4 linked regions of the Homo sapiens genome follow. The protein of the gene in region 1 purifies or fractionates together with the protein of each later gene. This does not show direct contact. Each region holds a gene or a part of one and is shown in the gene's direction. Other genes may lie near its edges.

The links. Proteins that work in one complex are often made in the same cells at the same time.
Region 2: the proteins of EIF4ENIF1 (region 1) and EDC3 fractionate together in Homo sapiens (co-fractionation; one large-scale study listed by IntAct). This does not show direct contact.
Region 3: the proteins of EIF4ENIF1 (region 1) and PAN2 purify together in Homo sapiens (affinity purification with mass spectrometry, with the first as the bait; one large-scale study listed by BioGRID). This does not show direct contact.
Region 4: the proteins of EIF4ENIF1 (region 1) and ATXN2 fractionate together in Homo sapiens (co-fractionation; one large-scale study listed by IntAct). This does not show direct contact.

What each region holds. Positions count from the first base shown.
Region 1 is NC_000022.11:31,479,843-31,483,342, reverse strand, and holds part of EIF4ENIF1 (eukaryotic translation initiation factor 4E transporter), read left to right. Parts: intron 1-3,500. UniProt on the Homo sapiens protein: EIF4E-binding protein that regulates translation and stability of mRNAs in processing bodies (P-bodies). Plays a key role in P-bodies to coordinate the storage of translationally inactive mRNAs in the cytoplasm and prevent their degradation.
Region 2 is NC_000015.10:74,665,025-74,668,524, reverse strand, and holds part of EDC3 (enhancer of mRNA-decapping protein 3), read left to right. Parts: intron 1-3,500. UniProt on the Homo sapiens protein: Binds single-stranded RNA. Involved in the process of mRNA degradation and in the positive regulation of mRNA decapping. May play a role in spermiogenesis and oogenesis.
Region 3 is NC_000012.12:56,324,001-56,327,500, reverse strand, and holds part of PAN2 (PAN2-PAN3 deadenylation complex catalytic subunit PAN2), read left to right. Parts: coding exon 1-137; intron 138-541; coding exon 542-884; intron 885-1,091; coding exon 1,092-1,188; intron 1,189-2,046; coding exon 2,047-2,166; intron 2,167-2,372; coding exon 2,373-2,492; intron 2,493-2,791; coding exon 2,792-2,920; intron 2,921-3,007; coding exon 3,008-3,207; intron 3,208-3,315; coding exon 3,316-3,452; coding exon of another isoform or gene 3,453-3,464; intron 3,465-3,500. UniProt on the Homo sapiens protein: Catalytic subunit of the poly(A)-nuclease (PAN) deadenylation complex, one of two cytoplasmic mRNA deadenylases involved in general and miRNA-mediated mRNA turnover.
Region 4 is NC_000012.12:111,512,316-111,515,815, reverse strand, and holds part of ATXN2 (ataxin-2), read left to right. Parts: intron 1-2,276; coding exon 2,277-2,459; intron 2,460-3,500. UniProt on the Homo sapiens protein: Involved in EGFR trafficking, acting as negative regulator of endocytic EGFR internalization at the plasma membrane.

The sequences.
Region 1 (3,500 bases):
CTGTAGTCTCAGCTACACAGGGGACTGAGGTGAGAGAATCGTTTGAGGCTGCAGTGAGCCATCATCGCGCCATTTCACTACAGCCTGTGCAACAAAAAGAGACCCTGTCTCAAAAAAAAAAAAAAAAAAAAAAGATCGTCTCCTGGCAGTGGTGCTCATTCAACTTTTTCTTCACCAGAAGCCCTTGTTCACCAGTTCTGGAATATAGTACCTGCTATTCTGTTAGTGATGCCATCTTCTGCTTGAAATACAAAATAGAAATGTTTTAGGCCATCCCACTATTCAGATCCATGTGGTTTTCTTTTCTGTTTTTTTGTTTTGAGACAGAGTCTCTGTCTGTCGCCAGGCTGGAGTGCAGTGGCCCTATGTCGGCTCACTGCAACCTCTGCCTCCCGGGTTCAAGCAATTTCCCTACCTCAGCCTCTTGAGTAGCTGGGACTACAGGCGCGTGCCTCCATGCCCAGCTAATTTTTTTTACATTTTAGTAGAGATGGGGTTTCACCATGTTGGCCAGGATGGTCTCGATCTCCTGATCTCATGATCCACCCACCTTGGCCTCCTAAAGTGCTCTGATTACAGGCGTGAGCCACCACGCCTGGCCTCACATCCATGTTATTTTCGTCAAGTGAATAGACTAATCTGTTTTTTTTTGTTTGTTTTTGAGACCGCGTCTCACTCTGTCACCCAGGCTGGAGTGCAGTGTTGCAATCTTGGCTCACTGCAACCTCTGCTTCCCAGGTTCAAGCAATTCTCCTGCCTCAGCCTCCTGAGTAGCTGGGATTACAGGCACGTGCCATGATGCCCAGCTAATTTTTGTATTTTTATTAGAAACGGGGTTTCACCATATTGGTAAGGTTGGTCTCAAACTCCTGACCTCAAGTGATCCACCTGCCGTGGCCTGCCAAAGTGCTGGGATTACAGGCGTGAGCTACCGCACCCGGCCAAATAGACTAATCTTATAAAGGATACATACGTTATGCTGTTCTTCCTTTGCTCCTGTGTTTTGCCACTGATTCCTTATTAAATGACTGTCACCTGCCAGTTGGACAGGGAATAAAAGCAGAGACACTCAGAACATTCAGCTTGATACTGACCAGTGTTAAACATGCGTATTAAAGTTAAGTGAATGTTGAATTATCTTAGTTTAACTTCATGTGGAATTTTTTTTTTTTTTTTTGAGACAGGCTCTCACTGTTATCCAGGCTGGAGTGCAGTGGTACAGTTAACTCACTGCAGCCTCGAACTCTGCATTCATGCGATCCTTCCACCTCAGCCTCCTGAGTAGCTAGGACTACAGGTGTGTGTCACCACACATGGCTAATTTTTTCATTTCTTTGTAGAGATAGGATCTCATTATGTTGCCCAGGCTGGTCTCCAACTCCTGACCTCAAGCGATCCTCCTGCCTCAGCCTCCTAAAGTGCTGGAATTCCAGGTGTGAGCCACTGCATCTGGCCCCATGTGGACTCCTCATAACCTTGACTAGTTACAAAGTGGCATTATTGTAGTCATTAGTGTCTCCAGGGATCTTTAAGGGAGGCCATCCTAATTTGTGGCTGGTAGGCCAATTGGTCATAGCAGTCAGTACAGCCATGTTTGTCTTTCCTTTAAAACAATCAGGAAAATGGACAAGCAGTTGAAGTGACTGACTTGAGTCATCCTAGCCTTCTTGGATATAATCAGAAGACTTGAAGCCAATCCCCAGAGAAAAGAGTAACTGATTTAAATCCTAGGTTGAAACAGGAATCAGGTGGTCCCTTTTTCCAGTACAGAAATCTTATTTGATAACTAAATGTATCTTTTATAAACTGAGTAGTAACTCAGGTGGCATTTCTGTGACAAATTTAGGTATAAACTTCTTAAACTAATTTAAGGATACCTATTTATGTTGGAGAAGGTAGAATTATGGTATGAAAAGTCATTGGGAGGACAAGGTGGGAGGATGAATTGAGTCCAGGAGTTCACGACCAGACTGGGCAATATAGTGAGACCCCATCTCGTTAAAAAAAAAAAAAATTGCCAGAGGTGGTGGTGTGCACCTGTGGTCCCAGATACTCAAGAGGCTAACGTGGGAGGATCACTTGAGCTTGGGAAGTTGAGCTTGCAGTGAGCTATGACTGCACCATTGCACTCCAGCATGGGCAACAGAGTGAGACTCTGTCTCAAAGGAAAAAAAAATTATTCAATCTTAATGTGTCAACTGTCCAGAAAACCTATCTTACTGGAAGTTGTTAGAGCAGGCTGGCTGGCAAGACCATAGAGAATAGCTTCTGACTGCTTTTTCCTACCCGTTCCTTTTTTGTTATTGTTGAGACAGAGTCTTGCACGATCTTGGCTCACTGCAACCTCCACCTCCCAGGTTGAAGTGATTCTCCTGCCTCAGCCTCCTGAGTAGTTGGGATTACAGGTGTGTGCCACCATGCCCAGCTGATTTTCTTTTTTTTAGTAGAGACGATTTCGCCATGTTGGCCAGGATGGTCTCAAACTCCTGACCTCAAGTGATCTGCCCACCTTGGTCTCCTAAAGTGCTGGGGTTACAGACGTGAGCCACTGCACCCGGCCCCTGCCTGTTCGGTTTTGTTTTGTTTTCAGAGGGAGTTTTGTTCCTGTTGCCCAGGCTGGAGTGCAATGGCGTGATCTTGGCTCACCACAACCTCTGCCTCCCGGGTTCAAGCGATTCTCCTGCCTTAGCCTCCCGAGTAGCTGGGACTACAGGCGCACGCCACCATGCCCGGCTAATTTTTTGTATTTTTAGTATAGATGGGGTTTCTCCATGTTAGGCTGGTCTCAAACTTCTGACCTCAGGTGATCTGCCCGTCTCACCCTCCCAAAGTGCTGGGATTACAGGCGTGAGCCACCACGCCCGCCCAGGAATATTTCCCTTTTAATCCCCCTTCCATAAATGTGACTTATGTGAAATTCTACATAATGTCAGAAGGTCCATCAGAATGCATAGTTGTTTCTGCATAGGATTTCTGCAGAAAGAAATGGATAAGGATTTTAACCATTGTTCTTTTGGGCTTTTGTTGAGATTCATTTGCTTTCCACTTTAATAGTGATCACCAAAAGTGGGTGTTCATACTAGTAATTCCCCAATAGGTTTTGGGAGCCTTGACACATTTTCTTTAAGGAAGGCTGCTGCAACTAAGAAAATATGTTTATGCTTCCTTGGGTGTGTGGCTCTTGGGCAATTAGCAGCTTGTTCTTGCCTAGTCAGGTTTTAGTAACCTGTGCAAAAAGTGAAGTCTCAGGTATTAACTCTTATATTCGCCATATGGTAATCTTAATGAATTCATTCGTGATCAGTAAGTTCCTATGGGTTAAGACTTTCCAGGCTAGGCACAGTGGCTCACACTTGTAATCCCAGCACTTTAGGAGGCTGAGGCAAGATGATCACTTGAGCCTAAGAGTTCAGACCAGCCTGGGCAACACAGCAAGACCTCATCTCTACAAAAAATTTTTTAAATTAGCTGGATGTGGTGGCATGCACCTGTAGTCTTAG
Region 2 (3,500 bases), on another chromosome or scaffold:
TGAAAATCTTTTTTCTTTTAGCAGAAATTGTTGATTTGTTAGAAGTTCAAATAGGCAGTTTATAATCTTCCGTGCACTTGAAGATGACCCTTATTAGCAATTCATATTATTTTTTTCTACACATTTTTCCCCGTTATTAACGTCTTACATTTGTATGGTATACTTGTTATAATTATTGAACCAATGTTGATGCATTATCATTAAACAAAGTCCATATTTTATTCAGATTGCCTTAGTTTTTACCCGGATGCCCTTGTTTCAGGATCCTGTCCAGCATATCACATCATATTTGGTAGTCATTTCTCTGCTTGGCTCTTACAGTTTCTCAGACCTTCCTTGTTTTTGATGACCTAGACATTTTGATGAATACTGGTCAGGTATTTTGTAGAATGTCTCTCAGTTGGTACTTGATGTTTAAATCATGATTAGACTGGGGTTATATGTTTGGGGGTGGAAGACAACAGAGGTAAAGTACCATTTTCATCACCTTGTGTCAAGTGTATATATTATCACCATGGTTTATAACTTTTGATGTTCACCTTGATCACCTGGCTAAAGTAGGATATATCTAGTTTCTCCTCTGTAAAGTGACTCTTTCTTCCCCTTTACATATGTACTCTTTGGAAGGAAATCACTATGTGCAGCCCACACCCAGGGAGTGAGAAGTTATGTCCCCTCTCCTTGAGGACACAGCATCTTCAGACATTACTTGGAATTCTTTTATGCCAGAGATTCCTCTCTTCTCCCCCATTTGTTTATTTATTCAGTCATTTATTTATATCAGCATGTACTCATGGGTATTTATTTTATACTTTGGCTTATAATTCAATATTACTTTATTTTGGTACTCAAATTATTTCAGTTTTGGCTAGTCTCCAATCTTTCACTTGGATCTCATGTCCCTTTGACATACTCCAATCATTGTGGATTTTATTTTTTTTTTTTTTTAGTACTTAGGTACTTTCTCACACTGAAAGATGCTTACTACTACCACTACTACTACTACTACTGCTGCTGCTGCTGCTTCTCCTCCTCCTCCTCCTCCCTCCTCCTCCCTCCACCCCCTCCCTCTCCCCCTCCCTCCTCCCCCCTTCTCCTTTCTTTCTTCTTCACTAGGGATGCTCATTGCTCCTGGGTGTCACCCTTATAGCTGACAGCAAGAAAATGTGTATACTTCTCTGCAGAGTTCACAGAAAAGAAAATATATGTGTGTATATTTAACCAGCATATATATACATATTTAAATATTTCTATATGTAACTATGTATATTGTACTATACTAAGTATGAGTTCATACTGATGTCTCCAACTTTAATCCATTACCACATGGATCCTTCTAGCCTTCTCCTTTTGCTTGTCTGTTACTTCTCACTCCAACAGTGAGAAACCTGTCTCCTATTGTCATTCATTCTTTACATAATTATTCAATTCCAGTATACATGTATAGTGGTATCAGAATTATTAACTTGTATCGCCATTCCTGTGGGAGACTATCAAACAGAATGTGGTGCTTACGTACTGTTTCTTTTGCCTTTCATCTGACTCCATTCATTTCTAGAGTTATTTAGGTCTCCCATTTCCTTCATTGACTTGTTTCATATATTCATAATACAATTAATTTGTTTTATCACATTCTGCATTCCATCCTGGGATCTTCTAACCTCCTAAATGATTTTTAAAAATTTGCAAACACTAAGGCTCACTCTTTGTGCTGTAAAATTCTGTGGGTTTTGACAAATACATAGCATCATGTATCTGTCATTACAGTATTAAACAGAATAGTTTCATTGTCCTAAACAATCTCTTGTGCCTTACCTGTTCAACTTCCCCCACTTCCCCCTGGCAACTACTGATCTTTTTATTATACCATCCCTGCAGTTTTGCATTTTTCCAGAATATCACATAATTAAAATCATACAGTATGTAGCCCTTTTCAGACTGGCTTCTTTCACTTAGCAAGATGCATTTAAGATTCATTCATGTCGTTTTGTGACTTGATAGGTCATTTCTTTAATTGACGGATAATGTTCCATTGTGTGGATATATCAATTTGTTTACCCATTCACCTATTGCAGGACATCTTGGTGGCTTCCAGGTTTTGGTTATTCTGCTTTTGCTGTTTTGTCAGTTTCCTTTTTCTAGATTGTTAACTGTACATAAATGAGGTAAAGAGATCATAGGGCAGTAAAATGTTACTATTTTTCAAGAAACTTATGTAGAATCCAGATTAGTTTGGAAAATGTTTGTGGCCTGGGAATGGCAATAAGACGTGGCTCAGAATAGGTTTCTGATAGAAGGTAGAGTTATAATTATTTTTCCACTCATTGAGCCCTGTAAGTAAAAAGGTCTGCCTTAGAATTTTCTCCAGTTTATGTACATTGATATTGAGACTAGTAGATTGATGAAGCTATAGAAATATAATCTGTCGGCCGGGTGTGGTGGCTTATGCCTGTAATCTTAACACTTTCGGAGGCTGGGACGGGCAGGTTGCCTGAGCTCAGGAGTTTGAGACCAGCCTAGGCAACATGGTGAAACCCCGTCTGTACACAAATACAAAAAATCAGCTGGGTGTGGTGGTGGGTGCCTGTAATGCCAGCTACTCAGGAGACTGAGGCACAAGAATTGCCTGAACCTGGGAGTCGGAGGTTGCAGTGAGCTGAGATTGTGCCACTGCCCTCCAGCCTGGGCAACAAAGCAAAACTCTGTCTCAAAAAAAAAAAAAAAAAGGAAAGAAAGAAATATAATCTGTCTTCAGTTCTGGCTTTTAAGTGTTCTTTCAGGATTGCAATAAGGAGTTGAGGAATTTGTTGGTTTATAATAGTTAGCTAATCCAACACTGATGATTTAGCACAAGCAGATTTTAATCTCTTTTCGGGTGGGAGTGGGTTTAAAGAATCATGTAAAGAATAGTTTTTCTGTGACCATTCAGAATGTTTGTCAAATAGACATAACATCAGTCCCAGGGAGCAGAGGGAAACCAAGCCTTGTTTAGGGTGCAGCTCTGTGTATGGGTATAATTCATATTTATCAAATCCCATGTCACAGCTGAAAATGGTGACCATGAGGGGCAGATGAAAGGCATCCCTCTCTGAAATCTTAGTCTATGAGCTTGAATAGTCATTGTAACATGCAGTTGAATAAAAATTTAACAGTTAAGTTAAGGCTCTTTTGCCTGTAGAACATGAAAGTAGATAGCTGAGGCTGGGCATGATGGCTGATGTCTCTAATCCCAGCACTTTGGGAGACTGAGGTGGGCAGATCACCTGAGGCCAGGAGTTCGAGACCAGACTGGCCAACATGACGAAACCCTGTCTCTACTAAAAATACAAAAAATTAGCTGGGCCTGGTGGTGCATGCCTGTAATCCCAACTACTTGGGAGGCTGAGGCAGGGAGAATTGCTTGAACCCGGGAGGTGGAGGCTGCAGTGAGCCGAGATCGTGCCATTGCACTCCAGCTTGGGCAACAAGAGTGAAACTGCATCTCAAAACAAACAAAGTAG
Region 3 (3,500 bases), on another chromosome or scaffold:
GGCCTGCGACCGTTTCCTCAAGGTGTATGATTTGCGCATGATGCGTGCCATCACACCACTTCAAGTACATGTGGATCCTGCCTTCTTGCGCTTCATTCCTACATATACTTCTCGTCTTGCTATCATCTCTCAGTCAGGTATGAAGGGCATATGGGATTGGGTAGGAGGGATCGATGAGCAAAGGAGAGCTAGAACCCGAAGGAGTACTCATCCTGAAACCTCTTTGTTGGGGAAAGAAGTAACCTTTCATCAGGGTCCCAAGGTTTTACTTGGGTTTGGCCAGAGATTAGAGCTTTTATTTTCTTGAATATGAGGAACATGGAAAAAGGTAAAGATAAAGTAGGCAAAATAACTGTAGAATTGCTCTTTGCTGAGTAGCGAACCATCTGTGGTTTATGGAAGGCACGAAGTGGCATTCTGTCTCTAGGCATGGATTTGGGGCCCATCTTGTCCTGAAATCAGGGGAAGAGGATAGGAAGGGCATAAGAATATGGCTCCCTTTCACTTTCTAGGGCTCAGTGGGTTTCTTCCTCCTTTGTAGGGCAGTGCCAATTCTGTGAACCCACAGGCCTGGCCAACCCAGCCGATATCTTTCATGTGAATCCTGTGGGGCCTCTGCTAATGACATTTGATGTGTCAGCCAGCAAGCAGGCTCTGGCCTTTGGGGATTCTGAGGGCTGTGTGCACCTCTGGACTGATTCCCCGGAGCCTTCCTTCAACCCCTACTCCCGTGAGACTGAGTTTGCTTTGCCGTGTCTCGTGGACTCACTGCCTCCTCTGGACTGGAGCCAGGACCTGCTGCCTCTTTCCCTCATCCCTGTCCCACTCACCACTGACACACTTCTCTCTGATTGGCCTGCTGCCAACTCTGCTCCAGCTCCCAGGTTGTACCCTACCTCTGGGCCAAAAGGCGGGAGGGACAGGGAAAGGGCCAAGATACCAGAATTCTCTGCTAGCCCTGTTGTTATTCTACTACTTTCCTGATTTTTGTCTACCTTCAGTATTTTCTTTTTCTCTGGACCCTTGGGGATTGGGGAGTGGACCAGTGTACACCACAACTCTTTAAGTCCTAGAACTATGCTGGATTGTAGGCGAGCACCACCCGTGGATGCAGAGATTCTGCGCACCATGAAGAAGGTGGGCTTCATTGGCTATGCGCCCAATCCCCGCACCAGGCTGCGCAATCAGGTGTGTTCAGAGTGGAGGGTCAGCCCCGACCCCGGCCCACTGAAGTTTCTCCTATCTTTTTCCTTTACTAGTCTTTCTTTTGTTTTTAGATCCTGTTGGTAACCAACCAAATTGATGGAACTATGCTAGGTGTTAGGGAGGATTCAAAGATAGAGAAGCTAGGGTCCTTGCTGTTAGGAAGTTTAGTATTTGGTTGGTGAAGAGAAGACATAGCCATATCAGAAATTACGTTCTGTTGTTAAATGCTGAAGGAATGTCATAAGCATTTAGTGCCAGAGCTGTTTGGAGGAAAAATGTTATTCCAGGCTAAAGTGACCAAGGAAGGTGTAATGAAAGAGCTGGGTATTAAGCTGGAAAGGTGGGATATCAGTTAAGTAGATAGTAACAGAGGAGAATATCCAAGATGAGAGAAGAGTGTTAGTAAAGATCTCAAGAGGCATAAATGCAAAACACATATCTGAGGGGGACTACATGAGTATACCAGTCTGGCCGGAGTAGCTGTTGGTATTGGGATGTAGTGAGCGATTAAAATTAGAAGTGGCCAGATTGCGAAGCTTTGAACACCAGTCTATAATAGAGGAAGTAATACACAGAAAGCAGCATTCTGCAAGGGTTAATTTGGTAGTGGTGTGCTGGACAGAGTGAACATAGGGAGACCAGTGTGGACGCCATCACAGTTGTCCATCTGTGCTGAAGCAGAGTGATGGCAGTGGAAATAGAAAGGAAGCAGCGGATGCTGAGAGTGCTATGAATATAGAAGGTTCAGGACTTGGTGGCTGTTTCAATGTTGGGATAAATGAGTGTGAAGCCAAAGATGACAAGACATCCAACAAGGTTACCTCTTCCTAAAATCCCTAGATACCCTACAGACTCAAGGAGTCAGACAGTGAATTTGACAGCTTCAGCCAGGTCACTGAGTCACCAGTAGGACGAGAAGAGGAACCACATCTCCACATGGTTTCTAAGAAATACCGCAAGGTGCTGGGGGACATCAGGGCCTGTGGGATGTGGGGAAAGGTACCCTGGGAAGGAAGTCATATGAGAAAGGATTGAAGGACTCAGTCAGGAGGCCTTCAACTACCACCCTGGACCCAGGAGGAAGGCTCTAGGAAAGGCTGTGGCTACTGGAAAGATTTGGGGACTCTGAGAATATCCTTGTCTTGCTCAGACAATTTCTACCTTAGGTGACCATCAAATATTCCAAGCTAGGGCTGGAGGACTTTGACTTCAAACACTACAATAAGACCTTGTTTGCTGGATTAGAGCCCCACATTCCCAACGCCTACTGTAACTGCATGATCCAGGTAAGGGTTGGGTATTCCTGTAACTTGAACGTGCCTGCTGCTTTTCTTCTTCCCTATGGCTCTCGACCCTGCTCTTTCCAGGTCTCCTCAGCCGTGTTCTCTTTACCATGGTCTCCTCTACAATTCTTTCTTGCCTCTACAACTTTCAAGTCTCCTCTGAGCTCCACCGGTTTGGTGGACTCACTGCTTCGGTGGACTCCTGCTTCTGGGACATTTTCTCCACCAGCTCACTTAACCTCCATATTTCTCCTCACCCCCAGGCCAGTTTCCTACATCAGTTCTTCTGCTTTTCCCTCCAGGTGCTCTATTTCCTGGAGCCTGTACGCTGTCTAATTCAAAACCACCTTTGCCAGAAGGAGTTCTGTCTGGCATGTGAGCTGGGCTTCCTGTTTCACATGTTGGACCTCTCTCGTGGTGACCCTTGCCAGGTCAGTACTTGGAGACACTTAAAATGGAAGGGGAAGGAAGGTGGACACAAAAGACAAAATAACCCCTTTCCACCAACACATTTCCAGGGCAATAATTTTCTTCGGGCATTCCGTACTATTCCTGAGGCCTCAGCCCTCGGTCTAATCCTGGCTGACTCAGATGAGGCCTCAGGCAAGGGCAATCTGGCCAGGCTCATTCAGAGGTGGAATCGCTTCATTCTCACTCAACTGCATCAAGATATGCAGGAGCTGGAAATACCACAGGCTTATCGAGGTGCTGGAGGCAGGTATGAAATCAGGATAGAAATAGTTAAAGCCATCATGACAGGCCCCTCTGTGATTTAAAAGGTCTCCTAACTTCCTCAATGTGCATATATCATCCTCTCCACTCTTAGCAGCTTTTGCTCATCGGGGGACTCTGTTATTGGGCAGCTCTTCAGCTGTGAGATGGAGAACTGCAGCCTCTGCCGCTGTGGCAGTGAGACCGTGCGAGCCTCATCCACTCTGCTTTTCACACTCTCCTACCCTGATGGTAGCAAAAGTGGTATACCCTTCAGCTCAGTTGGGAAGGCTCCCCAAA
Region 4 (3,500 bases), on another chromosome or scaffold:
AGTCTTGAACTTAGGTTCATTTTACAGCTCTTTGGCCAAGGTCCTAGTGAACCTTCCTATTGGCCATAAGCAGGGATGGTGTTTTCTGGGTCTTTTTTGAGAGCGACAGCCCATGTAGCTGACTTTGCGTGTCTGCCCTTAGATTAAAGTAGTTGATTTTTAGAATGCCAGAAGAATTCTAAATTTAACTGAGTAATTTTTTTAAAGTTAGCTTTGCAATCTTACATAGTGAAAGGCTGCTTTAATCTGGAAGAAGTCCTTGATCTGAGATAAAATTGATAAAAACGACATATGAATTTGAATATTTAGCTATTTCTTTCCTCGTCAAAAATAAGAATAAAATCTTGTAATTCTTATTCAGTATTTGGCGCTAAATCCATCATTGCCACATATCAAATACAGGGATATGTTGTAGAAAGGTAACATTCTAATTTAAATGCCACCCATATATTAAAAACCTGTTTTCTGAATCATAATGTCCTTTTGATACTAGTTCTGAATATTTGTGTTAAAATTTTAATCTGATTTGTTCATTAAAATTAGTTAATATTGCTTATGTTGGGACTAATAAAGTTTTCCGCACAAAATGTGTTTCTCCTGCTTCCCTGGAGAAAACTGTATTGGCTACTTTTAAATAAATTGTTACCATCTAAGCAGGCAGGTCATATGACTTTGACTGAAGCATCTAACCTTGAAGAGCAAGTTCCACTGATTTTCAAGGTGACTTCTTTGCTCAAAAGGGCCTTAATAGTGGTCACTAAATGCAAAATTCTGTTGATATTTTTCTTGTAGTCCATCATTTGAGTAAGCGATGTTTATTTAATGAGAATATATTAAATAAAACATGATCATTAATGACTGTGAACATCTTTATTACATTAAGATTTAAGGACTGCTCATGTATTAACTTCACACAGAAATATACTTTCTGTGTCATTCAGAGATGTTGAATATTTCCATTTGAAAATTATAGTGTATAACATTAGCATTCTTCTAAAGATCATGTTCGTGTTTAAATTCCTGTTGGAAGCCAGGCATGGTGGCTAACGCCTGTAATCTCAGCACTTTGGGAGGCTGAGGCAGGTGGATCACTTGAGGTCAGGAGTTTGAGACCAGCCTGGCCAACATGGTGAAACCTCGTCTCTACTAAAAATACCCAGCTACTTGGGAGGCTGAGGCAGGAGAATCACTTGAACCTGGGAGGCAGAGGTTGCAGTGAGTTGAGATCGTACCACTGCACTCCAGCCTGGGCGACAGAGACAGACTCTGTCTTATAAAAATAAAAATAAAATAATAATTCTATTGGCAACATATATTAATTTGAAGTTCTAAAGAGTTTGGCAGCCGGGTGAGAGAGTGAGGAGATTTGGCTTTGACATTAGGGAAGTTTTCGCTTGGTGTTAACACCAGTAGGCTTCTCTGATGAGGGCCATTCTGTCCACTCTTTTACCTGATAGATTGGTCTAATGCACAGTAGACTGATTTAGAAAGAGTAGTCACTAGTGGCATGGCAGAATCAATAATGTAGAATTTTGACAATTCATATAGTGCTGATTTCTCCCCCAAATGTCAGTTATTTTGGTCATCTATTAATAGACTAATACAAGTCATCCCTTTAATAGAATTTTCAGCTCACAGCCTGCTAAGCCTAAGAAACTGCTTACAGGTTACTGCTTACTGTTTTAAGCCGAGTTTTAAAATTGATGATCATGATAGAAGAGATAAATAAACTAAAATTTTAGAGAAATTTAAGAAGGGTATGTACATATGTTTTAGTGGTATCGGGGTGTATAGGGATTAATAGTCTTCTGTTTAAATTTTTTTTTTCTAATTTTAGAAGTAATGTAGAAAATTCGGGTCAGGGAAAGGTAAAATATATGGAAAGTTAAAAATATTTTATCATGTAGTCATAATTTCTAGTAACATATTTCTTTACAAATAAGACATAGTTGAAACAGATTGCTACAGTTCTTTTAAGAGTTGACATCTTATTGTTGATTTCTTACCACCAACTTCATCCCTCCCTTTCTTTAAAAATAAAGGGAAATAATAAAATTTATTTATAAAACTTTGTGGCATTCCACAAAATAATTCTGAAAGAATTAGTATGGCCAAAAAAATATGTATGGTGTTTTTTTTTTTTCTATTTTTAACCAAGGAAAAACTGTAGAGTGAGTGAGTGTGTGTGCATGTGTGTGTGAATGGGTGTATTTAGCAGAAAAGTAGTACTGATGAATATCATGGAATTTATGTGATGTTCACTGTTTCTTCCTTAGGGCCTCCAAGGATGTCCCCAAAGGCCCAGCGACATCCTCGAAATCACAGAGTTTCTGCTGGGAGGGGTTCCATATCCAGTGGCCTAGAATTTGTATCCCACAACCCACCCAGTGAAGCAGCTACTCCTCCAGTAGCAAGGACCAGTCCCTCGGGGGGAACGTGGTCATCAGTGGTCAGTGGGGGTAGGTAACACTTGGGCATAATGATGGTACTCATTTTGTCATTACACTAGATATAAAGAGGGCTGAGCTACAACTCTGTTTGAGGAAGTGTAAGTATGTATATGTTAAAAATAGTAGAATCACCAGGAATTGGGAAACCCATATTTTTATTCTGGGCTCTACCACTTATTCATCATATATTAAAGCAAGTCAGACACTCATTCTGAAGTTGAGATTTCGCAGTGAGTAAAGTGTTAATAATTCTTGCCTAGTCTACATTATGGGATTGTGATGAGATTCCTATAAGGTTCATAAATACAGATATATTGTAAAACTATAAAGTTTTGTAAAGTACCTCTCTAATATGAGGCAAACACAGTATGTAACACTATTTGGAGGGACCGTATTTCCTTATCTTTTTAGCAGCTTTGTTTATCAGTACATTCTATAAACATTTATTTTTGGCTTACATTGTAGTGTGTTTCTATAGCATCTGTATATGGCACTAATTCCCAACTATATTTCCATAATAAGGAATATCAAATACAAATAAAGGGTCCAAGTTTTATTTGTGATTAGCATAAGGAATATGCTGACAGCAGCTATAAAAGTATAAAAATTAGGCTGGGTGTGGTGGCTCACGCCTGTAATCCCAGCACTTTGGGAGGCTGAGGTGGGCGGATCACAAGGTCAGGAGATCGAGACCATCCTGGCTAACACGGTGAAACCCCGTCCCTACTAAAAGTACAAAAAAAATTAGCCGGGCATGGTGGCGGGTGCCTGTAGTCCCAGCTACTTGGGAGGCTGAGGCAGGAGAATGGCATGAACTCGGGAAGCGGAGCTTGCAGTTAGCTGAGATCACGCCATTGCACTCCAGCATGGGCAACAGAGCAAGACTCTGTCTCAAAAAAAAAAAAAAAAAAAAAGTTTAAAAACTAGACGTTGACATGATTTTACAATAAGGCTGACTGCTTTTGCTACTTTGCCAATCAGTCCTTAGTGCTTTGTTCCCATAACTGTGGTAAGCAAGAGCTTACAAAGAATACTTAAAACAAACAAACA